Linked DNA regions of Homo sapiens. The protein of the gene in region 1 purifies or fractionates together with the protein of each later gene. This does not show direct contact. Each region holds a gene or a part of one and is shown in the gene's direction. Other genes may lie near its edges.

Evidence for each region.
Region 2: the proteins of PC (region 1) and FANCD2OS purify together in Homo sapiens (co-immunoprecipitation; one large-scale study listed by IntAct). This does not show direct contact.
Region 3: the proteins of PC (region 1) and METTL2B purify together in Homo sapiens (pull-down; one large-scale study listed by IntAct). This does not show direct contact.
Region 4: the proteins of PC (region 1) and CYP27A1 fractionate together in Homo sapiens (co-fractionation; one large-scale study listed by BioGRID). This does not show direct contact.
Region 5: the proteins of PC (region 1) and LSM14A fractionate together in Homo sapiens (co-fractionation; one large-scale study listed by BioGRID). This does not show direct contact.
Region 6: the proteins of PC (region 1) and CAD fractionate together in Homo sapiens (co-fractionation; one large-scale study listed by BioGRID). This does not show direct contact.
Region 7: the proteins of PC (region 1) and CIB2 purify together in Homo sapiens (co-immunoprecipitation; one large-scale study listed by IntAct). This does not show direct contact.

What each region holds. Positions count from the first base shown.
Region 1 is NC_000011.10:66,867,884-66,871,383, reverse strand, and holds part of PC (pyruvate carboxylase, mitochondrial precursor), read left to right. Parts: coding exon 1-69; intron 70-186; coding exon 187-332; intron 333-491; coding exon 492-609; intron 610-930; coding exon 931-1,082; intron 1,083-2,419; coding exon 2,420-2,538; intron 2,539-3,500. UniProt on the Homo sapiens protein: Pyruvate carboxylase catalyzes a 2-step reaction, involving the ATP-dependent carboxylation of the covalently attached biotin in the first step and the transfer of the carboxyl group to pyruvate in the second.
Region 2 is NC_000003.12:10,105,456-10,109,582, reverse strand, and holds the start of FANCD2OS (FANCD2 opposite strand protein), read left to right. Parts: upstream 1-1,327; 5' UTR 1,328-1,568; intron 1,569-3,045; exon of another isoform or gene 3,046-3,123; coding exon of another isoform or gene 3,124-3,142; intron 3,143-4,127.
Region 3 is NC_000007.14:128,479,748-128,483,247, forward strand, and holds part of METTL2B (tRNA N(3)-cytidine methyltransferase METTL2B), read left to right. Parts: intron 1-899; coding exon 900-949; intron 950-3,500. UniProt on the Homo sapiens protein: S-adenosyl-L-methionine-dependent methyltransferase that mediates N(3)-methylcytidine modification of residue 32 of the tRNA anticodon loop of tRNA(Thr)(UGU) and tRNA(Arg)(CCU).
Region 4 is NC_000002.12:218,788,647-218,792,146, forward strand, and holds part of CYP27A1 (sterol 26-hydroxylase, mitochondrial precursor), read left to right. Parts: intron 1-3,500. UniProt on the Homo sapiens protein: Cytochrome P450 monooxygenase that catalyzes regio- and stereospecific hydroxylation of cholesterol and its derivatives.
Region 5 is NC_000019.10:34,221,004-34,224,503, forward strand, and holds part of LSM14A (protein LSM14 homolog A), read left to right. Parts: intron 1-483; exon of another isoform or gene 484-503; coding exon 504-735; coding exon of another isoform or gene 736-831; exon of another isoform or gene 832-3,500. UniProt on the Homo sapiens protein: Essential for formation of P-bodies, cytoplasmic structures that provide storage sites for translationally inactive mRNAs and protect them from degradation. Acts as a repressor of mRNA translation. May play a role in mitotic spindle assembly.
Region 6 is NC_000002.12:27,223,869-27,227,368, forward strand, and holds part of CAD (multifunctional protein CAD), read left to right. Parts: intron 1-48; coding exon 49-161; intron 162-476; coding exon 477-622; intron 623-876; coding exon 877-1,008; intron 1,009-1,141; coding exon 1,142-1,375; intron 1,376-1,836; coding exon 1,837-2,058; intron 2,059-2,262; coding exon 2,263-2,451; intron 2,452-2,656; coding exon 2,657-2,781; intron 2,782-2,963; coding exon 2,964-3,094; intron 3,095-3,500. UniProt on the Homo sapiens protein: Multifunctional protein that encodes the first 3 enzymatic activities of the de novo pyrimidine pathway: carbamoylphosphate synthetase (CPSase; EC 6.3.5.5), aspartate transcarbamylase (ATCase; EC 2.1.3.2) and dihydroorotase (DHOase; EC 3.5.2.3).
Region 7 is NC_000015.10:78,128,646-78,132,597, reverse strand, and holds the start of CIB2 (calcium and integrin-binding family member 2), read left to right. Parts: upstream 1-1,152; 5' UTR 1,153-1,382; coding exon 1,383-1,433; intron 1,434-3,952. UniProt on the Homo sapiens protein: Calcium- and integrin-binding protein that plays a role in intracellular calcium homeostasis. Acts as an auxiliary subunit of the sensory mechanoelectrical transduction (MET) channel in hair cells.

The sequences.
Region 1 (3,500 bases):
GGCCAAGCCCAGAAGTGGTCCGCAAGATGGGAGACAAGGTGGAGGCCCGGGCCATCGCCATTGCTGCGGGTGAATATAACGGGCAAGCAAGGGGTGGCCCCGCAGCTCCTGGAGAGGGTCCAGCAGGGAGGGGTGGCAGGGATTCCCGCCTGTTACAGAGACTCCCCCACACCTTTCTCCCAACAGGTGTTCCCGTTGTCCCTGGCACAGATGCCCCCATCACGTCCCTGCATGAGGCCCACGAGTTCTCCAACACCTACGGCTTCCCCATCATCTTCAAGGCGGCCTATGGGGGTGGAGGGCGTGGCATGAGGGTGGTGCACAGCTACGAGGTGAGTGAAGATGCCCAGGGCTGGGAGCAGGGCAGGGCAGCCTGCCGTGGGGGCAGGGGCGGACCACTCAAGGGATCTGGAAAGTGGGTGGGGTTCATGGCAGGGGAGAGGTAGCGCTGTGGGGTCTGAGGTCTGGCTGGCCCCTGCCCGCCCTCGCAGGAGCTGGAGGAGAATTACACCCGGGCCTACTCAGAGGCTCTGGCCGCCTTTGGGAATGGGGCGCTGTTTGTGGAGAAGTTCATCGAGAAGCCACGGCACATCGAGGTGCAGATCTTGGGTGAGTGGTCCTGACGCCCCGCCTGGGGCAGCTGGAGGCGGGAGCTGAGAGGCCCAGTCCTGGTGCCGTCACAGTGGCTGGCCTTGGGGACAGCCCTGGGGCCTGTCGGGCGCTTTTCCAGAGGACTCTGGAAAGTGGGCTCTAGGGGCCGAGCTGGCAGTTGGTCCTCACAGCCTTGGTGATGCTGGTGTCTCTCCTGGCAGCCTCTGTACCGCTGGCAGCCGGCACTGACTGGCGACAGTGGTTATGTGGGGGTGATGGGGCATTTAGGAGGCGTGTAGATTCCAGTAAAAGCTAAGCCCAGTTTACCTCCCTCCCCAGGGGACCAGTATGGGAACATCCTGCACCTGTACGAGCGAGACTGCTCCATCCAGCGGCGGCACCAGAAGGTGGTCGAGATTGCCCCCGCCGCCCACCTGGACCCGCAGCTTCGGACTCGGCTCACCAGCGACTCTGTGAAACTCGCTAAACAGGTGAAGGGTGGGCTTCCCGTGTTGGGACAGGAGCCTGTGCTCACAGGCCGGCAGGCCTCACAGTGGGGCGCTGGTTGGGGAAGGGGACCCTGAGTCCCCTTCTGGGGACTGGGGATGGGGAGAAGAGGGTGAAGGACTCTCCTGGGGGCCAGAAGTGGGTTTGTGGCATCCTTCCCATGTGCAGTTGAGGCACCTGGCCCAGAGGCCAAGCTTAGAGTCCAGGATGGCTGAGAAGAGGGAGGGAAGGAGCCCCAGCCGCCTCCTCAGCCCTGCTGCTACACAGACCTGGCTTCTCTGTGGCATCAGCTCATCCCTGTCATCAGGAGAATGAGATTCCGTGGATTCTGTCAAGATTGAGGACCATTATGAAGGCAGTCCTCCCTCATGTGCTTCTGTCTCCTACATCATGTTTATTATGATCTGTTTCCTTGCTCTGCACCCTCTGCCCATCTCTGCTTTTCTGGGACCTCTGGTCGGGGGGTCCTGGGCTGTGGAGGAGGCTGAGGTGGCAAGCTATCTCCCCACAGTGACCTGCCCCAGGACTGGCCTGGAGAGCACCTGCTGTGGCCAGGTGTGCAGCGGGGTCCTGCCCCCTCTTCTTCCCTGGCCTATAGGCAGCAGAGGATGCGTCACCTCCCCATGCCGAAGGCCGGGGTGTGCACTCTGCAGCAAGGCCTCAGCCACAGCTAATGCGAGGCATCGACCAGGGTCGCGTTTAAGTCAGGTCTTATTTACTGGCTTATACTATTTCACATTCCAGAACAGGTTTAAGGGAGGTGATTCAGTCTGGTTTATCGTTTTGGTGAGACCAAAAGTGAAACTGGAATTAGGGCTGAAATTTGAGTTAGAGTCATTATCTGTTGGTACCTCTCAAATGAATTTCTTTGGGTGGTGGTGGCCAGAGGTGACTGCGCAGTAGACTAGAAGGGGACTTTCTGAAAACACCTCCAAGCAGAAGCAGCGGCTGGGAGAGGCCTGGGTCTCCGTGTCTGGGTGGATGACACAGCCTTGGCGGGCAAGCCCAGGAGGCAGCAGGGCAAGGTGCCGAGCCTGGGATGGGTGGGGGCTTCTGCCCATGTCTCGTCCCAGATAAGCTGGGTGCAGCCATCTGTGGCTCCGGGAACCCTGGAGCCTAGTGGACTACTTGGGGGACGTGTCCAGGCAGGAGCATGACCTGGGCCCTGGGGTCTGTCTGCCATCTGTGGGGGCAGGGTTTGCCACAGGCCATTCTTTTACGGAACCAACCCAATGGGTGGGACGGAATCCCTGTCCTGAGTCCAGTGAGTTTGCCCAGGCCCTGCCTGTGCCCTCCCCTGCTCACGTGGCCGCCCCCACAGGTGGGCTACGAGAACGCAGGCACCGTGGAGTTCCTGGTGGACAGGCACGGCAAGCACTACTTCATCGAGGTCAACTCCCGCCTGCAGGTGGAGCACACGGTCACAGAGGAGATCACCGAGTGAGTGTGGGCGGGCAGGCGGGGCGGGAGGCGCGGCTTCTAGGATTTGCATAAAGTACAGGCGAAGTGGCTCCTGGGGCCAGCCAGGGGGCTTGCTCACTCCCCACATTGGTGGAGAGCAATGGGGATCCAGGTACTTAGTGTTTTAAAAGTCATTATTCTAAAAGCATTACGTGGTTATTATAAAAATCAGCACAAAGGAGCAAATAAAAATGACTGACAGCCCTCCTCTCTGTCAGGACGCTGCCGATTGCTCAGGCCCAGGTGCTCCCATCTGTCAGAGGAGTAAAGCAAGGCTCAGAGACATTTGGAGAGTTGCTCGGGGTCACACAGCTGGCGCTGGAACCCAGGCATCTCCGGCTGTCTTTGGTTTGCTCCTTTCCCGGTTTACCTGTTTTACTAGAGACATAGTTTGATGCAATAGAGATGTTTTATATAGAATTTTTATTCTACTTTTCAAATTATTTAATATTTGTTGAAGGCATTTCCCCAGGCCATAATTCTGTCTGAATACTTTTAGTGGCTGCGTACTATTCCGTCTTGTGTGTATTTCTTAACTTACATAGTCCTCGATTGTTAGGCAATTAGTTTGTGTGTCTGGCTTTGGTGGTTATTAAGCGTGTCACTTATCATCTGTGTGCCTGAATGTTTGGCTTCAGCTCTGAAGAGTTCTGAGGGTAAACCCTTCAACAGGATTATCTGATTGAAGGATAAGTAGCATCCCTCGGAACAGCCCTCTAGAGAGGTGGCACTAGCGTGCTCCCTGCAGGCACTGAGGATGACATTTTCAAAATCCGCCTGGTTTCTAAATGACAGTCATGATGGCCCTCACCCTTCAAGGTCTCTACTATGAGCCATGTAATTTCTTGACGCTGCTTTGGGCCAGCCCATCTCACTGTGGAGCATCCCTGACCCCAGTTCTGCCCCCAGCCCCAACCCCACCTGAGACTGAGGATGCTGTC
Region 2 (4,127 bases), on another chromosome or scaffold:
GTGACCCAAGATCAAGCCACTGCACTCCAGCCTGGGTGACACGGTGAGACTCCGTCTCAAAAAAAGAAAGAAAAAAAAAGAGGGAAATAAAAATGAACTAACTGGGGAAAAAAGTTTTGTAATTCAAAATCATTTGTGTCTCTTCCAAGTCTCACTATTCTGTGCCTCTCTCTTCATGTTCTGACCCGACATGCCCTCCAGACTCTTCTCCACTTACCTCTTCTTCCAAAAGGTGCACATGTACACACAGTGGGTGTGTGTCTTCTAAATCAGGATCTTGCCTGACTCTATTCTCAGACCCTCAGTCTTTCTCCATCAGCTTTACCCAAAAAACCAGAACAAAGGTGACAAGTCTTATTTGTGGTGTGTGTTCTATAGTTTGTAAAATGCAAGGGCAATTCTGGGTGTACAAGGGAAGGCCAAGTAGGCCATTAGTTACTTCCTCCCACAAATACTGCACACTGCCAGACATGGCAATAGCCAGGTACTGGGAATACAGACATCAGCTGGGTAGACTCCTCCCTTCCCTCAGCCATCCAGGGTCATTATTTTAAGTGATGATTACAAAGTTGTCAAATCACTCCTTCACTAATATGGCGAAAGTGTATTTCTGCATTATAAGAATGAGACAAAATCATTCTTTTTGAGATTTTTTTGTTTTCTTTTTGAGCTGGGAATCTCACTACGTTGCCCAGACTGGTCTTGAACTCCTGGGCTCAAGCAGTCTACCCATCTCAGCCACCTAGATAGCTGGGATTACAGGTACTCTCAGGTTTAACGCAAGGCTGAGAAAGGTTTTCTGTCAGGAAATCAAGGAAAGACGTGCGTTTCCTCCTGCTCTTGACAGGTGAACATTTATTAATTCTCTTTCTTTGCCACTGGGATCATTCAAATAGAGCAACAAAACCTGACAGAGCTCTGGGTCACTCTGCCTGAGCACCCACTGAGCAGAGTGTGATGAGTTGGGACTAACTTTTAACACTAACTACAGGTCCTGGGACTTTTATGCAGGCCTCTGACCATGGCCATTGAAGTAGGGGTCGCCTGTCCTCTGTGGCTTGATCAAAGGCACACAGGTACACAGGTGTGGCACGGTAGGGAGGAGGACAATGGAGGGGACAGGATTCGGACCAGCCCTCCTGAAGGCCAAGTCCTGGACAAGGCATTCCAATGAGGTGGGGGCGGGGAGTGTGGCCCTGACGCCTCCCAGTAGGGCGCCTCGAGCCCCCATCCCCGCCGCGGCTCGGGCTGCCCTGCCGTCCTGGGTCACAAAGGCGGTTGCCAGGCGCCACGAACAGCGGCCGCCACTTTGGAGCGTGAGACCCTCAGAGTTCAGCAGGTGAGCCCCGGGCCCGGATGGTGGGACTGGGCCCAGGTTCCCACCGCATCGTCCGCCTCAGCCAGAACCTTCTGGTCCCCGCCCCCGGATAGGGACCCAGGAGGCCCAAGCCCCTTCTTCCGGCGGGGAGTGGGAGCCTCTCGCACTCTCGGCAGCTCCAGACCCTCGGGATCTCCGTTTACAGTTCAGGACCTCAGCTGCACTTTGGCGCTAACGCCCTGTTTCCCAGGTGGGGAAATCAAGAGATGGGGTTCCTTGGAATGGGAAGTGGGGTGTGAAGGGGAAACCTTTTTGGCCAGGAGAATCAGGTGTTCCATATCTGGGAGCTATTGAGCAGCTTGAGCAGACTTTGTAGGTTCAAGCCCTTCTGGAGTGGTTGACAGTGACTTCTGGGCGGTGGGGATGGGGTGAACCATCTTTAAACTTTGTGCGAAGAGGTGCAGGGACCTAGGTTTAGAAGCGCTCTCGTCCCATGTTGGTTCTGCCGAATATTTAGGCTGACTCCTGACCTCAAGTGATTGGCCCGCCTTGGCCTCCCAAAGTGCTGTGATTGCAGGCCTGAGCCACCGCGCCGCGACCTAGGCTGGACATTTGACAAAGACTTTTACTTCTACCTCTACTTCCTCTTAGAAGATGTGGCAAGAAAAGGATCCGGGGGGCCCGGGCCCGGTGGCTCACGCCTGTAATCCCAGCACTTTGGGAGGCCGAGACGGGCGGATCACGAGGTCAGGAGATCGAGACCATCCTGGCTAACACGGTGAAACCCTGTCTCTACTGAAAATACAAAAAAATTAGCCGGGCGTGGTGGCAGGCGCCTGTAGTCCCAGCTACGGGAGGCTGAGGCAGGAGAATGGCGTGAACCCGGGAGGCGGAGCTTGCAGTGAGCGGAGATCGCGCCACTGCACTCCAGACTGAGTGACAGAGCAAGGCTCTGTCTCAAAAAAAAAAGAAAGAAAGAAAGAAAAGGATCCTGGGATTAAATACTTTTTTAAATCCCATATTCTGGGATTAAAAATATGCTTGACAGCATTCATACCCTCCGCCCACCTTGCCATGGTGGTGTACCACAGTAGTCCCTCTCTTGGATATGTGCTCTGAAGGTCAAGATATCAAGCACCAGAAGCCTTTCACAGGGTGTTTGGAATAGATAACTGTCCCTTGGGTGTCCCTTTCTCATTCTAAGGCAGCCCAGATATTTGAACACTTAGTACTTTGCAAAGAGCCTACATAGATCATGAGAAACATACTAGTTGGAGAAAATCAACAAATCCCCCTATACTAACCATTGTCAGGAGCAGGTCTTCTGGTCTGAAATGTCACCAACGTTTTTTTCTTTTTTGAGACGGAGTCTCCCTCTGTCACCCAAGCTGGAGTTCAATGGCTTGATCCCGGCTCACCGCAGCCTCCATTCAAGTGATTCTCCTGCTTCGGCCTCCTGAGTACCCGGGATTACAGGCACCCACCACCACGCCTGGCTAATTTTTGTATTTTTAGTAGAGACGGGGTTTCACCCTGTTGGCCAGGCTGGTCTTGAACTCCTGACCTCAAGTGATCCACCCACCTCGGCCTCCCAAAGTGCTGGGATTACAGGTGTGAGCCACTGTGCCCGGCCAACAGTTCTTTTTTTAAAACGAACTTTTCTATCTCACAAACGGCGGTGAAGGTGTCAAAATTTTCACAGTATTTCTGGGGCAATTACTGGATAGGATGAGATCTGCTGCTATCTTCTGTGGGAGAAGAAGGGGCAGAGAAATACACTTGGCTAGAAAGAAAAGGGACCTGCTATGCCCACTAACAAAATAGGTACGTGCTAAAAAAAATTAGCTTCTGAATTTAGTAAAACTTCTTATATACTGGCAATGTTGAAGGAGAATGATGGAAAATTCTAATTTTACTTGCATAAATTTTCAGTTAGCAATATCCTCACAGCCCTTTTTAATCTTCAAAGGAAAAAGAAAATTAAGGTCTTATGGAACCAGTAGGTCTTCCATAGATGGAAAACAAACAAATCAGAAAAACAAATTTAAAACCACACCCACACCTAGAAAAACAAAAATCTTTAACAGTTTTTTGACTGGACTTTGGAAGTGTTTTCTCCCAGCCTGGTGTAGCTCCTCTGAGGTGGTATATAAATAACCCAGGGGTCTGCAAGTTGCTCCCTTGTGCTAGAAAATGCAGAGGCCTTTGGGGCCAGGAGATGATCTCAGTAATGAATAGTGAAAGCTAGAGTTGTTTGAAAGGAATAGCATAAGAAATTCTCAAAATAGACAATGCAAGAGGGCTTATATAAATGCAGATTGCTGGGTCCCACGTGGAGTTTGTTCCTGTTGGTCTGAGGTGGGGCCCAAAAATGTGCATTTCTGCAAGTTTCCAAATGATGCTGAAGCTGCTACTACAGGGTTCATACATCGCGAACCTCAAAATATATATATATATATATATATATATATATATATATATATATATATATAATTTTTTTTTTTTTTTTTTTTTTAGATGGAGTCTTGCTCTTTCACCCAGGCTGGAGTGCAGTGGTGCGATCTTGACTCACTGCAACCTCCGCCTCCTGGGTTAAAGCAATTCTCACACCTCAGCCTCCCCACAGAGCTGGGACTACAGGCATGCGCCACCACGCCCGGCTAATTTTTGTATTTTTAGTAGAGACAGGGTTTCACCATGTTGGCCAGGCTGTTCTGGAACTCTGACCTCAAGTGATCCGCCCGCCTCAGCCTCCCAAAGTGCTGGGATTATAGGCATGAGCCACTGTGTCCAGCCACAAATATTTTTA
Region 3 (3,500 bases), on another chromosome or scaffold:
CCAAAAATTGTATTAATAGCATCATGCTGTACCTGTCACATGACACTGTATCATACAGGTGAAAGAGCTCAACATGATCATGCTATAACTCTGGAAAAATGTCCCAGATCAGAAGAAATTGTTGCTTCTCTTCTAATACAGTTACAGGAATGGAGAGGGTAGTTAGGATGGTGCCTGTTTCTTAGGCCTGGGATAATTCTCTTCCTCTGCATTTGGATGGTGTTGCAGAGTCTAGACCTGGAAAAATGTCTAGATTGGTATAATGTAAATTCATAAATGGGGACTGCGCACGTTACTGGAAGCTGGTTCTGGAACTGGTTAGCCTTGGGATTGAGTCCTATGGTGTGATCTTAGACAATTTCCTTACCCTCTCTGAGCAGTGAGACTGCTGCCTCTGCACCTTATACTTATGAGGATGGAGATAATGTATGTAAAAGGGCTAAGAACAGTATCTGGCACATTGTTAAGCCCTTAATAAATAGTTGCTGTCTTCATTACCACGCAGCACTGTGTTTAGGACAAGGTTGTCAAGGTCCCCTTTTCATACATTTTTCAGCACAGTCTATTACAAATATTTTCACAATAATAATATAAGCTTAGTAAGAAAATACTTCATCTACAGGACAATTTGCTAGAACTCAAAAGATAAAAGCAATCCTTGCCCTTTTTTCTAGACCACCTCGTTTCTGCTAATAAAAACCCATGTTCTTGTCTTTTAAGGGTTCCTGAAGTCAACATCAAAATCAACAAATGTCATGGGTACTGTTTAGCTCTGGTCACTACACCTTCCCTAATACAGTTAGGCCAGATTCTTGTTGATTATTATTTTTCTAGCTTTTCTAGCTTTCGGGAATTAACTCTGGAAAGTTCTGTGATTAATAGTTCATTTCTGTCTGCAGGTTGGCTGTGGTGTGGGAAACACAGTCTTTCCAATTTTACAAACGAACAAGTAAGTATGTTGTAAAAGTTTATGATAGCAAAGAAGATAAAAGTGAAGGTTGGCTGGGCGCATTGCTTCACGACAGTAATCCCAGCACTTTGGGAGGCCAAAGCAGGATTGCTTGAGGCCAGGAGTGTGAGACCAGCCAGGGCAATGTAGCAAGAAAAAAAAGTAAAGATTTTTTCAAAACTTGCTGCATCAAACTATCAATAATGGTTATTGGAAAATATGGATTATGTCAGATTCAGATTTCTACATTGTTCATTTATGGATTGTTTTAATTTGATTATCTTTATCATTTGGAAAATTAGACTTAAAACTTGCTAGTGTTAACGTTTAGTGCCTTCTTCTTCTTCTAAGGAACAAATGTGTTCAACTTTTCCATTCTCATGATCTCTGAAGAACAGTCAGTGGCTGAGTTGTCATTACCCCCATGGTAGAGTTGAGAAAGCTATCATACATGAAGATGTCTCCTGTTCTGATGAAAACACACTGGTTTTGTGTACTTAAGCAGAACGCTTCTGACACCAAATGTGCAGGGTTTTTGCCAACACTGACCAATTCAACAACAGCTGGGTGTCCTACAATTCAATTCTGACACTGTCTACTTGGAGTTGGTATCAGATCCCACAAGTTAAGGGTTCGGTCCCAGAAGACTGCCCCCCACTTCAGATGCCAGTTGTGAATCTGGCCCTCCGTGTTTCTGCCCTACAGGCTGTAAATCAGGGGAGCCCTGTCTCCAGTTCAATAATTTCCTAGAATGGCTCACAGAACTCAGGGAAACACTTTACTTACATTTATGTGTTTGTTATGAAGGATACAGATTAACAGCCAGCTGAAGAAGTAATTAGAGTGGGGTTCAGAGGATCTCACGCTCAGGAGCTTTGACCCTGAGGAGCTCAGTGCAGTGTTCTCCTAGCACACGGATGTGTTCACCAACCTGGAAGCTCATCAAGGGTTTTTTTTTAGTTTTGAGACAAGCTCTTGTTCTGTCATCCCGACTAGAGCACAGTGGTGTGCCCATAGCACACTGCAGGCTCAAACTCCTAGGCTCAAGCAATCGTCTCACCTCAGCCTCCCAAGTAGCTGGGACTACAGACACATGCCACCATACCCAGCTAATTTTTGTTTATTTTTTGTAGAGACAGGGTCTCACTTTGTTTCCCAGACTGGTCTCAAACTCCTGGCTCAAGTGATCCTCTTGCCTCGGCCTCCCAAAGTGCTGGAATTACATGCATAAGTCACCGTTCCCAGCCTCAAGAGTTTTTATACAGCTAGGACACAGACTTATGGGAAAATTAATTTTAAAAGGAGAAGAAGAAAATAGTTTTCATACAACATAATCTGCATTTCTATTCAGGACATTGGTGGGTGAAGCTGAAAGTTCCAATCAGTTTGCCCTTACTAGTGTTGGCCCCACCCCAGGTCATCTCATTAACATAAATTCAGTGTGGTCCTGAGGGAGTTCATCATGAATAACAAAAGATACAGAGTCTTGCTTCATCTCCCAGGTTGGAGTACAGTGGCACAATCTCGACTCATTGCAACCTCCGCCTTCCGGGTTCAAGTGATTCACCTGCCTCAGCCTCCCTAGTAGCTGGGATTAAGGGTGCATGCCACCACACACAACTAATTTTTATATTTTTAGTAGAGACAGGGTTTCACCACATTGGCCAGGCTGGTCTCAGACTCCTGACCTCAGGTGATCTACCTGCCTCGGCCTCCCAAAGTGCTGGGATTATATGTGTGAGCCGCCGCGCCCAGCCTGCTGAGGAAATTCTTAAGGTTTTTGGAACTCTGTGCCTGGAACCACAAAGACCAACACCAAATATATTTATTATACCATACCTGTTTTGTTTTGTTTGAGACGGAGTCTTGCTCTGTTGCCCAGGCTGGAGTGCAGTGGCGTAATCTTGGCTCACTGCAACCTCTGCCTCCTGGGTTCAAGCGATTCTCCTGCCTCAGCCTCCCAAATACCCGGGATTACAGGCATGCGCCACAATGCCCAGCTAATTTTTGTATTTTTAGTAGAGATGGGGTTTCGCCGTGTCGGCTAGGCTGGTCTCGAACTCCTGACCTCAAGTGATCCACCCACCTCAGCCTCCCAAAGTGCTGGGATTACAGGCGTGAGCCATGGCTCCTGGCCCTATAGCTGTTTTTAAACCCCTTGTGGAAATGACATTCCAGTTCTGTATTCATTACTGGAATCCACTGTTTCTCAAAGGTTTCATATAATATATACTTTGCCAATTTAGCCCACAGTATTCATTAACAGGATTAAGTAAAACATTAGCCTCATTACTAATATACATTTAAATATTTCTACAATTTGTTCTCAGAAATTTCTAAGAAAATGGCAAGTCCTAGTACTAACACTGAAGAAAAGAGATTGTTCTACTCTTGAAGTTACAGTCTGAGGAACCCACCTCAAATGGGAGATTGACTTAGCTTCAAGTTATGGCCATTAATCATCAATATCATCAATGAATGTAAAACTGAATGTAGATGGCATCTTTGCCACAGCCTCTTTATGCCATTTAAATAAGATCGCTGTGTTCAG
Region 4 (3,500 bases), on another chromosome or scaffold:
GAAACCCTTTTGAATATACTTCTCTGGTGACTCTCCGTTAGGTTAATTATCTCTCTCCCTTGGACTGTGAGTGATAAATGCTGCCAAATTCTTCCTATTTGGCTTCCTTCTTCTGGATTTTGTTAACACCACTCCCATTCTGTTAACACATTCTTTCTTCAGTTTGACAAAAACCTTTGATTAGATAGATTTTCTTCCTTAGCACTCATGTTACCATCAGGCCTTCCAGAGATTATTGTCCAGTTACCTTGACTGGACTTAAGTGTTTTTCAGGGCCATCTGGTAGACATCTATAAAGTTGTCCTTGAGGATGTAGCAGAACAGGGAACATGGCCCAAAAGCCTCAGAGATGGGAATATGAAACTAAGTATTAAGGTGAAATATGTGTGAGTTATGCCAATTTAGCAATTACATTGCCAGAATGAATCATAGCAATTTAGCATTTGCCCTTACAGATAAACTGCTGTAGGCAAAGAGACATGCAAGAATATTCAAGGCAGCCTTATTTGTAGTCAGGAAAATTAGAATGATTTAAATGTCCCATAGTAGGGGGCTAATTAAATTATGGTACATCCATATGATGAAATTTCATGCAGCCATTAAAAAGGTTAGGGACAGATCTATTAATATTTATTGCTTGCTAAGAGATGGAAAGAACGTGTTGAAAAAGAAAAACTTTAGCTGAATTAAGTTTAACAGAGTTTAAATGAGCAAAGAACAATTCACAAATCAGACAGCGTCCCGAGCCAGAGTAGGCTCAGAGACTCCAGTGCAGCCATGTGGTGGAAGAAGATGTATGAACAGAAAAAGGAAAGTGACATACAAAAAATGGAAGTGAGGTACAGAAACAGCCGGATTGATTACAGCTTGGCATTAGCCTAATTTGAACACGGTTTGAACAGTTGGCCACCTCTGATTGGCCAAAACTTGGTGATTGGCACAAGAGTAGGCTACAGTCTGTATACAACTCCATTTACGTTATAGTTTGTAATGTGCTGAGAAACCTTTAGGCCAAACTTAATATATAAGGAGGCAGCTTTAGGCTAAACTTGAACTTGATTTAACAATTCCCCACTTTCGGTTATTTCAGTTTTAGAGGATGACCAAGACTTTACTCATTGATGTCATTATCACCATTGTAAATGTATTTATTTGGTCTTGGAACCCACTGGGAAATAGCAGAGCAGTGGGTTTTGTAAGGTGGGAACAAGGACTTCAGGTTATTTTTTTGTGAAGGTTAGAGTAGAGGGTACCTCCTTATGGTGGGATGTCCTGTTTACAGAAGAAAAACAAAACTTAGTCTGTTCTAGGATCTATTTGTTTCCTTAAAGTCTTAGTTTGATTATGTCACATTTAGCATAAATGACTCTATTTTGGTTTGGTGTGGTCTGTTGGAGGCTAGTGCATGAGCTTAGTCGAAAACAATGGCCTCCCATAATTTGTTTCCAATTTCTCCTCTTTTGGTCAGTTTCTTACTTAGGTAAGAGTATGAGCAAAACTTAGGGCCTTAGCACTGCTCTCAGTTACCTCATTTTGTGTTTCTGGTCTCAGCACATCATTCATAGGTTATGGTGCCTCTCATGGTCACATATATCTTTTAGCTCTTTTCATTCCAGTTGAAGAGAGACCATTTGACATTCTAGAGATGGCTGCATGCAAACATTTAAAACTTTTGAGAGAATACAGTGCACCACGGAGACTACTGTTATGACTATCAAGAGGATAATACCTAGAGTTTGGACTATGCTCCTTAGCCAGGTTCCCCATAAAACAAACCAACTAAAATCAAATAGATCAAAGAATCAGCTAAAGACTCTACTTGCTTTAACTAAGCAGTCTCTTTGTTAATCCCCTACAACTGAATCTCTAAAATACCAGATGTGATGGAAGTGCCAACAGCTGCATAGATACTTCCCTGTTTAGCCAGCAGGTAATCTAGAGCAATTCTATTATTTAGCATAACTTTCAGAAGAGAATTTTAAGTCTGTTGTGTAACCATATCCTTTACAGTAGAATCTGCTAGAGAGCCTATCATGAGGGATAAATTTCTTTCTTTCTTTTTTTTTTTTGAGATGGAGTCTCGCTCTGTTGCCCAGGCTGGAGTGTAGTGGCACGACCTCGGCTCACTGCAAGCTCCACCTCCCGGGTTCACGCCATTCTCCTGCCTCAGCCTCCCGAGTAGCTGGGACTACAGGGGTCCGCCACCACTCCCGGCTATATTTTTTTTTGTATTTTTAGTAGAGACGGGGTTTCACTGTGTTAGCCAGGATGGTCTCGATCTCCTGACCTCGTGATCTGCCTGCCTCAGCCTCCCAAAGTGCTGGGATTACAGGTGTGAGCCCCTGTGCCCAGCCAAGTTTTGTATTTTTAATAGAGACGGGGCTTCACCATGTTGGCCAGGCTGGTCTTGAACACCTGACTTCAAGTGATCCAACCGCCTCGGCCTCCCAAAGTACTGGGATGACAGGCATGAGCCACTGTACCCAGCTGAGGGATAAATTTCCAATCATTGCCTCATTTACTCCAAACCATGGAAAAAAGGACCTAATACATGATGCCCTTTGAGAAGAGTTAAGACCTCCTGGCAATGATCTTTTTAAACCATGATGTAGGTTAACAGGAGTGGACCAGTGCTCTGTTTCTGACAGACTATGAGGCAATGTATGTGTCATTAAAATTTCCCACCTACATTGGCCCTTTGTCTTCCATCTATCAAGGCATAAGGTTATCCATGTAATAAGGCTGGCTGCAAAATCTTTCACAAATAAAAGTACACCCCATGAGTGCACACAACAGACCCCCTTTTCACTTCTATTATTCGTAGGGGCATAAACAAAGAAAAAATTGAAAGATAAGAGTCTCGTGATAGTAAAGAAGTCTTGATCTGTGATCTTGGGAAAAAGTCTACATCAAGGATACCGTCTTCTTCTGGGGAGAAACTTCCCTGGTTAGCTTTACCTTAAGGTTTCTAATGGGTGTACAGTTCCAAGTATGTGGAGGGACCCTTCTGAGTTATGAAATTATGAACCCAAGGTTCAAGGTCTCAAAGTCTTGATGCAGTATGGATGGCAAGTGCAGTCTTTCTGTGACATTCTCAGAAGACCTACTCTTTGGGCTCTAGATTGTGAAGGGCTTCATGTCCTCAGTCAGTGAACCATGAAAAGCTTTCTTTTCCTGGTGAAAATACACGGTGGCATGATGAGCTACTGTTACAACATCAGTCCTCTTGTGTGGGAAAGCTTTTATACAACCAGACGACCTGCATTGAAAAATGACAATAGAATGAAATCCCTCTATAAATGTTTAAATGTCCCATCAGCTAGCGAAATGTACCTGAAATTTTTATTGTCTTCCCAGGAATATGGGTTTGACAAACCAAATATTGGTCATAAACTATTTTAGCAATGTAGAAGTCACTACACACACACACACACACACATTTAATTTGGATCATTTTATGTTTTTCATGATGAGTTATGGAATGCAGAACTTTTAATAAA
Region 5 (3,500 bases), on another chromosome or scaffold:
ATGAAGTTTAACAGAATATTACAGGAACATATTGAACTCATATGCCATGAACAACTCGTGATAACTTAGATAAGATGCTTTTTTTTTTTTTTTTTTGAGATGGAGTTTCGCTCTTGTCACCCAGACTGTAGTGCAGTGGCTCGATCTCGACTCACTGCAACCTCCACCTCCCAGGTTCAGGTGATTCTCCTGCCTCAACCCCCCAAGTAGCTGGGATTACAGGCACCTGCCACCATGCCCAGCTATTTTTTGTATTTTTGGTAGAGAATGAGTTTCACCATTTTGGCCAGGCTAGTCTCGAACTCCTGACTTCAGGCGATCCGCCCCCTCGGCCTCCCAAAGTGCTGGGATTACAGGCGTGAGCCATCACGCCTAGCCAAGATGCTTATTTCTAATTAGCTTTAGTAATTACTTAGGCTTAATTTGGGAGTAGCACTGCATATTTTGGCTGAGGGATATTCTTTTAAACCTGATATGCTGAAGATTATTTGCTTTTATAATAGAGAACGGAGACCAACCTGGGCTGAAGAAAGAAGATTAAATGCTGAAACATTTGGAATCCCACTTCGTCCAAACCGTGGCCGTGGGGGATACAGAGGCAGAGGAGGTCTTGGTTTCCGTGGTGGCAGAGGGCGTGGTGGTGGCAGAGGTGGTACCTTCACTGCCCCTCGAGGATTTCGCGGTGGATTCAGAGGAGGTCGTGGGGGCCGGGAGTTTGCGGATTTTGAATATAGGGTAAGTGTTACTGTTAATAAATTCTTTGGGGTTGACATGCATTTTACAAGACTCAAAACATTTTTACTTGTTTTTGTTTTGGGTGAATTGTTTTGAGGACATTAGAATAACTTCCATTTTGACTTTTCAGTAGAGGATATACGTGATTCAGATGTATATATAAAGACATTATACAAAAAAAGACAGTATAGTATCACCTTTATTTCATGTTAACAGAATATACTTTTAACACCCAAAGAGTCTATCTAGGAAGCACATACTCCCAGAATGGAAGGGCAAGCTTTAACATTTAATAGCAGTTAACATTTATATAGTATTTACCAAGTAACAAGACATTGTTTTAAATATTTTTTTACATATTAACTTATTTAAACTGCACATCAACTCTGTGAGGTAGGTTCTATTATTATCCCCATTTTACAAGTGAGGAAATGGGTATAGAGATATTAAGTAACTTGCGAAAGGTCACATAGCTAGTAAGTGATGGTGCTGGGTGTTGAGCCCAGCAAGTTGTTTCCTGAGTCAGTACTCTTAATTTGGTTTTGTTGAAAATTCACTACATTTTCCCTGGTTTTCTCCTTTCACCATGAAATTGAAAATGTTTCGATATATTGGCCTTCAGGAGCTACTGCTAGAGAATTCTGTAACTCTGTATAGTAGCCTTATGTGTATAATGTAGCTTTTGACAGGTGTCTGTAAATTAAGTCAGCATAGTAACTATCTCAGTTAACAGTAAACTATCTTAGTTTATTGATTTTAGAAGTAGTGGAGAGGAAGGGCTATAACAGAAAGGACCAAAATCTTGTAAAGAGTTCCACTTGTAATAGCAACAGGCAGCTGGAAACAGAAAGACCTGTTAGCAGGAGTTCCATTGCCCAGTACTTAAAACTGGCCATTGTTGAGATCTCTCTGGAAAGAGATCAGTATTAGTGGCTTTTGGACCTGCTCTATTAATTTTAATGCTTTTGATATTGTGCCATCACAGCCAAGACTGCCAAAAATTATACTCAAGTCACCAGCTTATGCCATCCAGCCGTTGGTGGCCTTATGTAGTTGCGGGACTTCTGACTTGCAAAATCACCTTCCCAGCTAGGAGAATCTGTCTTAGGAACTCCAGAATAGCCCTCGCTTATCACTGTTACTGCCCTTAAGTTTGCCAGTGACACCTTGCTTACAGAATTCAGCAGTAGTATTTTCACAAATATTTTATTTGCCATTAACTCCTCTGCAATATTTGACACTGACCAACCACCCAATTTGGGGTCTTTCTTCCTAGTCTTTAAAATACTCTTCTAGGTTTTCAATTTATACTCTTCCTAATTTTTTAATACTCTTCATTCTTTTTTTTGGGGGGTGGAGGGTGTCAGGGTCTTGCTGTGTCACCCAGACTGGAGTGCAATGGCATGATCATAAGTCACTGCAGCCTCAACCTCCCAGGCTCAGGCAGTCCTCCCACCTCAGCCTCCTATGTAGCTGGGACTACAGGCATGCACCACCATGCCCAGCTAATTTTTAATTTTTTTTGTAGACACTGGGTCCCACTCTCACTATGTTGTCCAGGCTGGTCTTGAACTCCTGGGCTTAAGCGATCCTCTCACCTCAGCTTCCCAAAGTGCTGGGTTTATAGGTGTGCCATGGTGCTTGTTCCATCCTCCCTTTTGTAAGCCTGTCCTGGACCCTATGTGTTTCTGCACCGCATCTCTATCTGCACTGTTTGCTGTCAGCTTAACCTTCCTCAGACTGATCTCATCATCTTCCTTCTCTCCTGTCATCTCAGCTCTGCCTCCTCCCAGTGTTCCATGTTGGCTCATGGTATACTGCCCAGGCACTAGAGGTATCCATGATTGTGGCCTGTTGCCATTTATTCCTTTGAGATGTCCCTGTCAACTACCATGGTAACCCACCAGTTGGGCTTCAGACCTTCGTCTCTCTTTACCCCACTTTAAGGCAGATCAGCTACATTTTGAACAACCTGTGACAACTCCTTGTTGAAGACCACATTGAGTCAGCTTGGTCTGAGAAAAAGTACATTTAAATTAGACTTGGATCCAGATGAGAATAATAGCAGTAGTTACTAGTATGACCTTTCAGACCCTTGGTTTTGACATTTGTGAATAAAGAGTTGCACCATTTATTCTGAAATAACACCTTTTAAAGATCATTAAACTTTCAGAGTTGGAAAACATCTGAGAGGTCTGACCTGGTTAAAACATAAACCTCTTCTGCAGTATCTCTTATAGGGGCTGGGAGCTTACTCTTCCCAAGGGCATCCATCCCACCCCAGGGATGTTCTAACTGTTACAATCTCAGCTGGGCGTGGTGGCTCACACCTATAATCCCAGCACTTTGGGAGGCTGAGGTGGGCGGATCACCTGAGGTCAGGAGTTCGAGACCAGCCTGGCTAACATGGTGAAACCCCGTCTCTACCAAAAACATAAAAAAAATTAGCCGGGCGTGGTGGCACACACCTGTAATCCCAGCTACTCGGGAGGCTGAGGCAGGAGAATCATTGAACCTGGGAGGCAGAGGTTGCAGTGAGCCGAGATCACGCCACTGTACTCCAGCCTGGGCGACAGAGCAAGACTCCGTCTCAAAAAAAGGAAAAAACAAACCTTCCATGCAGTAACTGTGTGTGCTCCATGTGGTTACTAATACAAACATTTTTTTGACACCATGTCACACTGTTTATCATTTTGAGCCTTTTGTAAAACTCGTATCACATATATTGCAGAATTGAAAATGCATTGTCATAGTTACCTCCATGC
Region 6 (3,500 bases), on another chromosome or scaffold:
GTCATGCCAGGGACCATGATGGTTTTCATGATGCAATCTCTTCAATAGTGTCCAGTTTCACCCAGAGCACCAAGCTGGCCCTTCAGATATGGAACTGCTTTTCGATATCTTTCTGGAAACTGTGAAAGAGGCCACAGCTGGGAACCCTGGGGGCCAGACAGGTAAGATCCTGAGTAGAACTGGGTTGTGGACCTAAGAACAGGGTTGGCTCCAGGATGGGCATAAGGTGGACATGCCCTGGGCAACTCCTAGATGTCTAGGAGGTTAAGGGTATTGGGGATGGGTGGCAACCAACCCAAGATACCGTTTAAGCTTCTGTTGAAAGGAACTCCAGGGTCCTGGGTTCTGGTCCTCCCTCTGCTCCTCCTGAGGTGCATAATTTGCTCTGGACTCTTCTGAAAGCGAGGGAGCTAATCCAGTTGACCTCTTGGGTCCAGCTCAGCTCTAACATTCTACGACCTTCTTTGCTTCCACAGTTAGAGAGCGGCTGACTGAGCGCCTCTGTCCCCCTGGGATTCCCACTCCCGGCTCTGGACTTCCACCACCACGAAAGGTTCTGATCCTGGGCTCAGGGGGCCTCTCCATTGGCCAAGCTGGAGAATTTGACTACTCGGGCTCTCAGGTGAGGCATGTTCCTCCCCACCCTTCTGGGCGTGTGACCCTCAAGAATGGAAAGGGTCTTAAGGAGAAGGGCTAAGGTTGCAGGGAGGAAATGAACCAGATTTGGGGAATGTAGAGAAAGATGTAGTAAGAAATAGAAGTCAATTATTAGGGGCCAAGAGTACAGGGAGGGAAAGAAGAGGAGAATGCTACTCTAAGGCTGTTTGCAATTTTGCTTCTTCAGCAGAGGCTGAGATGCCATTCTTGTCCTTTTAGGCAATTAAGGCCCTGAAGGAGGAAAACATCCAGACGTTGCTGATCAACCCCAATATTGCCACAGTGCAGACCTCCCAGGGGCTGGCCGACAAGGTCTATTTTCTTCCCATAACACCTCATTATGTAACCCAGGTATGACTGGGGCAAGGCTGGAATGAAAAGAGGACTGGGCAGGGGGGCCCAGTGGTCACTGTGGGTTATTAAACTTTGATTGCCTCTCTACCCACAAGGTTCTGATGCCTGTAACTCCCCTCTCCATCCTCAGGTGATACGTAATGAACGCCCCGATGGTGTGTTACTGACTTTTGGGGGCCAGACTGCTCTGAACTGTGGTGTGGAGCTGACCAAGGCCGGGGTGCTGGCTCGGTATGGGGTCCGGGTCCTGGGCACACCAGTGGAGACCATTGAGCTGACCGAGGATCGACGGGCCTTTGCTGCCAGAATGGCAGAGATCGGAGAGCATGTGGCCCCGAGCGAGGCAGCAAATTCTCTTGAACAGGTTGGAGGGGTGTTTGGGTAAAGGAAGAATGGTGGTGTTTTTTTTGGTAGTGTTATTTTCTTTTTTTTTTTTTTTTTTTTGAGACGGAGTTTCGCTCTTGTTGCGCAGGCTGGAGTACAGTGGCGTGATCTCGGCTCATCATAACCTCCACCTCCCAGATTCAAGCGACTCTCCTGCCTCAGCTTCCTGAGTAGCTGGGATTACTGGCATGCGCCACCATGCCCAGCTAATTTTGTATTTTTAGTAGAGACGGGGTTTCTCCATGTTGGTCAGGCTGATCTCGAACTCCTGACCTCAGGTGATCCACCCCCCCGACCCTCGGCCTCCCAAATTGCTGGGGTTACAGGCGTGAGCCACTATGCCCAGCCATGTTATTTTCTTTATATCTTTTTTTATGTGGGACAGGCACACCTTGGACAGTAGGAAATAACCTGTTTGTTCATCTCTTCCACTCATTGCAGGCCCAGGCAGCCGCTGAACGGCTGGGGTACCCTGTGCTAGTGCGTGCAGCCTTTGCCCTGGGTGGCCTGGGCTCTGGCTTTGCCTCTAACAGGGAGGAGCTCTCTGCTCTCGTGGCCCCAGCTTTTGCCCATACCAGCCAAGTGCTAGTAGACAAGTCTCTGAAGGGATGGAAGGAGATTGAGTACGAGGTGGTGAGAGACGCCTATGGCAACTGTGTCACGGTGAGTGAATGGGGGAAGGGTGGGCGTCGTGTCAGGCAGGATGAGCTTTTGGAAGAGCAGAGGCCCAGGCCAAGGTCTTTGAGAGTTGTATGTCCCTCAGACCCAGGTTAGGTGCAGCCCCAGAGGTAACAGGACCCTGGGGTGCAGCCTTCTGCCTCTCCTGACTCTGCTTGGCAGTGACCTCCATGGCACCCCCCTTCACAGGTGTGTAACATGGAGAACTTGGACCCACTGGGCATCCACACTGGTGAGTCCATAGTGGTGGCCCCTAGCCAGACACTGAATGACAGGGAGTATCAGCTCCTGAGGCAGACAGCTATCAAGGTGACCCAGCACCTGGGAATTGTTGGGGAGTGCAATGTGCAGTATGCCTTGAACCCTGAGTCTGAGCAGGTAAGCTCTAGGCCCTGGAACTGATAGTCTAGTTGTTACCCCCTCTTCTTGTATAATTTTTGGCCCTTGAGGTTGAGGTCTTTTGGGCTTACAGTCCCTGGAGTACAAGCTGGAATCTTCTTTACTAGGTTACTTTTCTCTCCTTTCTGAGACCTCTCCTAGACAGGGTCTTCTAGGCCAGTGACTTTATTCTCCTTCTTTGCAGTATTACATCATTGAAGTGAATGCCAGGCTCTCTCGCAGCTCTGCCCTGGCCAGTAAGGCCACAGGTTATCCACTGGCTTATGTGGCAGCCAAGCTAGCATTGGGCATCCCTTTGCCTGAGCTCAGGTACGAGGATGAGGGAGATATCACAGTGGGGAAGTGGGTCGGGGGCTGAGGAAAATATTGATGGGACAGGGAATATGAAAAGGACATTGGCCTGGATTTGTGGGAATGGAAAGAGCTATCCGGAAGCTCACCCTTTATGCTTCCTTCACTGTCCTTCTGGCATCCCACCTGCTGGACCCCAGGAACTCTGTGACAGGGGGTACAGCAGCCTTTGAACCCAGCGTGGATTATTGTGTGGTGAAGATTCCTCGATGGGACCTTAGCAAGTTCCTGCGAGTCAGCACAAAGATTGGGAGCTGCATGAAGAGCGTTGGTGAGACTCATGCCCTGGGCACCCCCATGGGGCCCCACCATGACCAAGAATCTTAAATGTCAAGAGTTCCCTGGCATGGCCTTTTACGTCCTATGGGAGCAGGTGCTTGAGACATTTCAAACTAAGATTATAGTCCTTGTCAGGAGTTGGGGAGGCATCTGGAAATCTGTGTTGGAATACAGAATCTCTGGGATAGGTGCAAGCCATCAGACTATCTCATCTCATTTTTGCAGTATCTCCTCCTCTGGCACTTTGTGCTTTGGTCACTAAATGACCTTTTTTTTTAGTATGATGTTTACATCAGAGCAGGGCATCATAAACCTTTTTGGTAACAAGGAAATTTATTAGTGAATGATGAATGGCCGTAACGTTACCCAGCAGTGGCAGAGCATGTTAGAATTGAGTT
Region 7 (3,952 bases), on another chromosome or scaffold:
TACAAAAAAAATACAATAATTGGCCGGGCGTGGTGACTCAGGCCTCTAATCCTAGCACTTCGGGAGGCTGAGGCAGGTGGATCACCTGAGGTCAAGATTTCGAGACCAGCCCAGCCAACATGGTGAAACCTCTCTCTACTAAAAATACAAAAAAAAATTAGCTGGGTGTGGTGGCATGCCCCTGTAGTCCCACCTACTAGGGGAGGCTGAGGCAGAAGAATCGCTTGAACCCAGGAGGCGGAGGTTGTAGCGAGCCAAGATCGCGCTACTGCACTCCAGCCTGGGCGACAGAGGGAGACTCCATCTCAAAAAAAAAAAAAAGTATTTAGATTTTGCCAGTTCTCAGGGTCTTCATTTCCTTATGAGGGCTTCCACGTCATGTAAAACTTGTATTAAATCTGTTTTTCTCCCCTTAATCTGTCTTATGCCAAATTAATTCTCAAGCCCAGCCAAAGACCCTAGGAGGGCAGAGGTAAAGTCCTGCTTCCCTTACAATGGCATCTGCTTAAAAGCTCCAAAAAATGTCTTGGCCTTTGTCACACTTCTGTGGACACAGTCAAGTCCTTTAAATCCTCTCAAGTCTCACGTTTGTAACCAAGCCAAGTAAATCCTGTCCTGCTCCCTAAGGAACACAGAAGGTCTGAGATGCCCTGCCTAGGCCGCGCCCAAAGGCCAGATGGGCTTCCCGAGGCCTGGCCGGGAGGGCCTCAGATGTCAGCTTGACTGACCCCCTCCTTCTCCCCAGAGGGACAGGGCCCGGGTAAGGGCTTGACCAAGGTCGCGACGCGAGACGGTGGCGGAGCCCGGCCCCAGCTAGATCCACGCACTCACAGTCCTCGCTGCCGCCCCCGCCCCAGGTCAAGGGGCGCCACTCGCCCCACTGCCCGCCTCGAGAGGGTTTTTTCCCAGGCCCCGCACCCTCACGCCGTGCGACCTGGACTCCCACGGCGGGACCCGGGCTCACACCTCTTCCTGCTGCGGGGCGGAGTCGCCGCCGCTCCGGGTCTTTGTCCCCGCCTCCGAGACCCCCGCGCGCCCCCAGCACTTCCGGCCGCGGGAGCCAAGGGTTCGTGCCGGGCAGCGTCTCCCGGGGCCAGGTCGCCTCCTGCCGGGACCCGGGCGCGCTGCAGCCGCGGAGCCGGGTGCCCCGCCCTCTTCCCGCCGGCGGCGGAGTCGCTGCCGCTCCGGGTTCCCGTCCCCGCCTCCGAGACCCCCGCGCGCCTCCTCCAGGCGAGCTGCGGGGCGGGAAGGGTCCGGCCACCGTGGGCCGCTGCCAGCCGCGGGGCTGCCGAGGGCCGCGGGCACGGGGCGCTGGCTCCGGGTCTGGCGGCCGCTGATGGGAGTCGGAGCCCGGGCGGGCGAGCGGCGGCGCGGCGGCCACCATGGGGAACAAGCAGACCATCTTCACCGAAGAGCAGCTAGACAACTACCAGGTGAGCTCGGCGCGCCCGGCCCCCAACACAGGCCCCGCCGCCCCGCCGCCCCTCCCTTTTCTCGGTCGCTGGCCGAGGCCTCCCGAGAGCCAGCTCTCCCAGGTTCAAACCCTGCCTCTGCCTTCAGCTCGACGCGTGACCTTGGGCCGGTGACTTCCCCTCGCCGTGCCTCAGTTTCCCCACCGGTGGAATAAGAGCTCTTTCCAGTTGGAAGAACCTCTCAGGCGCGCCTCTCTCCAGCTACTCTCGCCCTAGGCAGGACCCGAACCCCTCTCCAGCCACCCATTCCAGCGCCCATCTGGCCCGGAGAGGGAGTCAGTAAACTAGGCTGGACGGAGGACCGCCCTCCCCGCTCCCTGCCCCCCAGCCCCAGGAAGGAGCCCAGGAGAGCGAGTCTCTGTAAAGCAGAAATGAGAGCTGGCGTCCTGTCTGGTCTAGGAGTGGGGTGCATCAGTCCCCACATGCAGTCTTCCCTTGGGACTGTCTTGTTTATCGGCTGGGGTTCGCTCCTTCTGACCCCAGCATGGAGATAACTGGAGCAAGAACGCAAGCCCGGTAGCAGCCTTCCAGGGCCACCTCTCCCAGCTCCCTTAGGCCCTCAGTAGCCACCTCCTTAGACCTTTCTAGGTTTTCCTGCCTCCAGAGCCAGCTTTCCAGATCTGGAATCCCAATACCGTCCCACCCAGGTAAAAACTTCGCTGTGGTTGCAGGATGAAGCCCAACCCCTTGGCTTACCCGGAGCCCTGGCCAATTGCTCAGCTTATCTCTGCAGCCTCAGTCTCCCCAGGTCCCTTCCCTGCCCTCTGCATGGCAGCCGCCTTAAAACCATTTGCAGTTGCTCCAGCTCACCAGGCTCATTCCTCCCTCCCTCTCTCCCTCTGCCCATGCCATTTCCTGGGCCTGGATGCCTTTCCCCCCTCCAGAGGATCTCTTTCACCCTTCAAGTCCCACATCTGATGCCTCTCCCCTGACTCCCCAGGCGGAGGGGGCAGGATTGTGTTGTGGCCTGTGTAACTGGGCAGGAGGAACACCAACAGGGTCTCCATAGGCACTTGTTGCCTTCATCAGTGCTTACTTTGGCTGTGAAGGAAAGCAGGTGTGAAGTGTGGGTCCTCTGATGTGGGTGAAGGTAAAACAAAGGCCCCTTCTCCTCCTAGAAGCCCTAGTTGTCAGTAATGGATTTCTCAGCTCCCCAGGTGAGGCCCTGGGAAGGAAGAGGGGAGACGCATTTATGGAGCACCTGCTGTGTACCAGGCACAGTAATTGATGCCCTCTACGCATCAACTCACTTGATCATCACAGTGAGGTGGATTATTAGCCCATTTTACAGACGTGTAAACAGAGGCTGAGGAGCCATTCAGGGCTCACACAGGATTTCGAATCTTGACTCCTAGGCTCACTTCTTTAGTTGGGAGTGGGCTGGGCTGGGCCATGTGTGCTTTTTGTTCCCAAGGCACTCAGTCTCAGACACTCAGAGACAGACTCTCACCTCCAGTGTGTGGCCCTTGTGATAGAGGCAGGTGGTGGAGTGTGTTCTAGGGAAGGGCACTAGTGGGCAGTGGGAGGCCAGCAGGGAAGGGGGACAAAGTCCAGAAACGATACAGCACTTGAGCAGGCCTTGGGAAGATAGGTCGGGTTTTGCCCAGTGGGGCCCAGAGGAGGCATTCCAGGTGGAGGGGACAGCGTGGATAAAGGCTTGGGAGTGGGCAGGGGCAAGCAGGCAAGCCATGCTCAGAAGTGAGGAGTAGCTTCATGGGGGTGGGGAGCCCAGGTTCCCACTCCAACCAGCCTGGCATTGGGTTACTCATCGGAGCCAGTCCCAGTGTTATGTTCTGATTCTTTGCCAGAGCCTAGCTAGACCCTGCCAGGCGGGGTGGGAGAAATGAGAGCTGTGAAACCTGAGAGCCCCACATCTCCTACCCTCTGGCTCTCCAGCCAGCCATTGCCAGCCCGGGCTGAGTGGGGGTGAGCCTGAGTTACAGCACCCTCTCCCCTAAGTGACACCTAGGGTTTCTTGGGACCTCCCAGCCTGGTAGTCTAACCTTTCCTGGGCAGGGTGCACCCTCTTGGTTCCCGGTGCCGGTGATTCCCAACATTTAAGCTTCTGTCCAGAACACTCCTCTGCATTGTACGGCCATCCCCCAGACCCCTCAAACTCCAAAACAGGGGTCACAGCCTCTCCAACACCCACTGCTGCTCCTCCAGCCATTTCAACTCTCTGCTCTCCCTCAGCCCATGTTTTCAGTTAAGAACAAGGCCTGTGACTCAGCCTCTTTTGTGGGTCACCTGGAGGTCCCCTCCTCCATCACGACAGCCAGGGCCCTGGGCTAGGCCTGCTCAGTCTCCTGCAAACTGGAGGTCTGACTGCTCCCTCCTGCGCCCCTCCTGCCCATCCCCCTCCAGCCACCCGCCCTCTTAGTTCTCTCACTCTTCCTTCATCTCTTTCTTTCTCTTCCTTTTTTTTTTTTTTGAGACGGAGTCTCGCTCGCCCTGTCACCCAGGCTGGAGTGCAGTGGTGT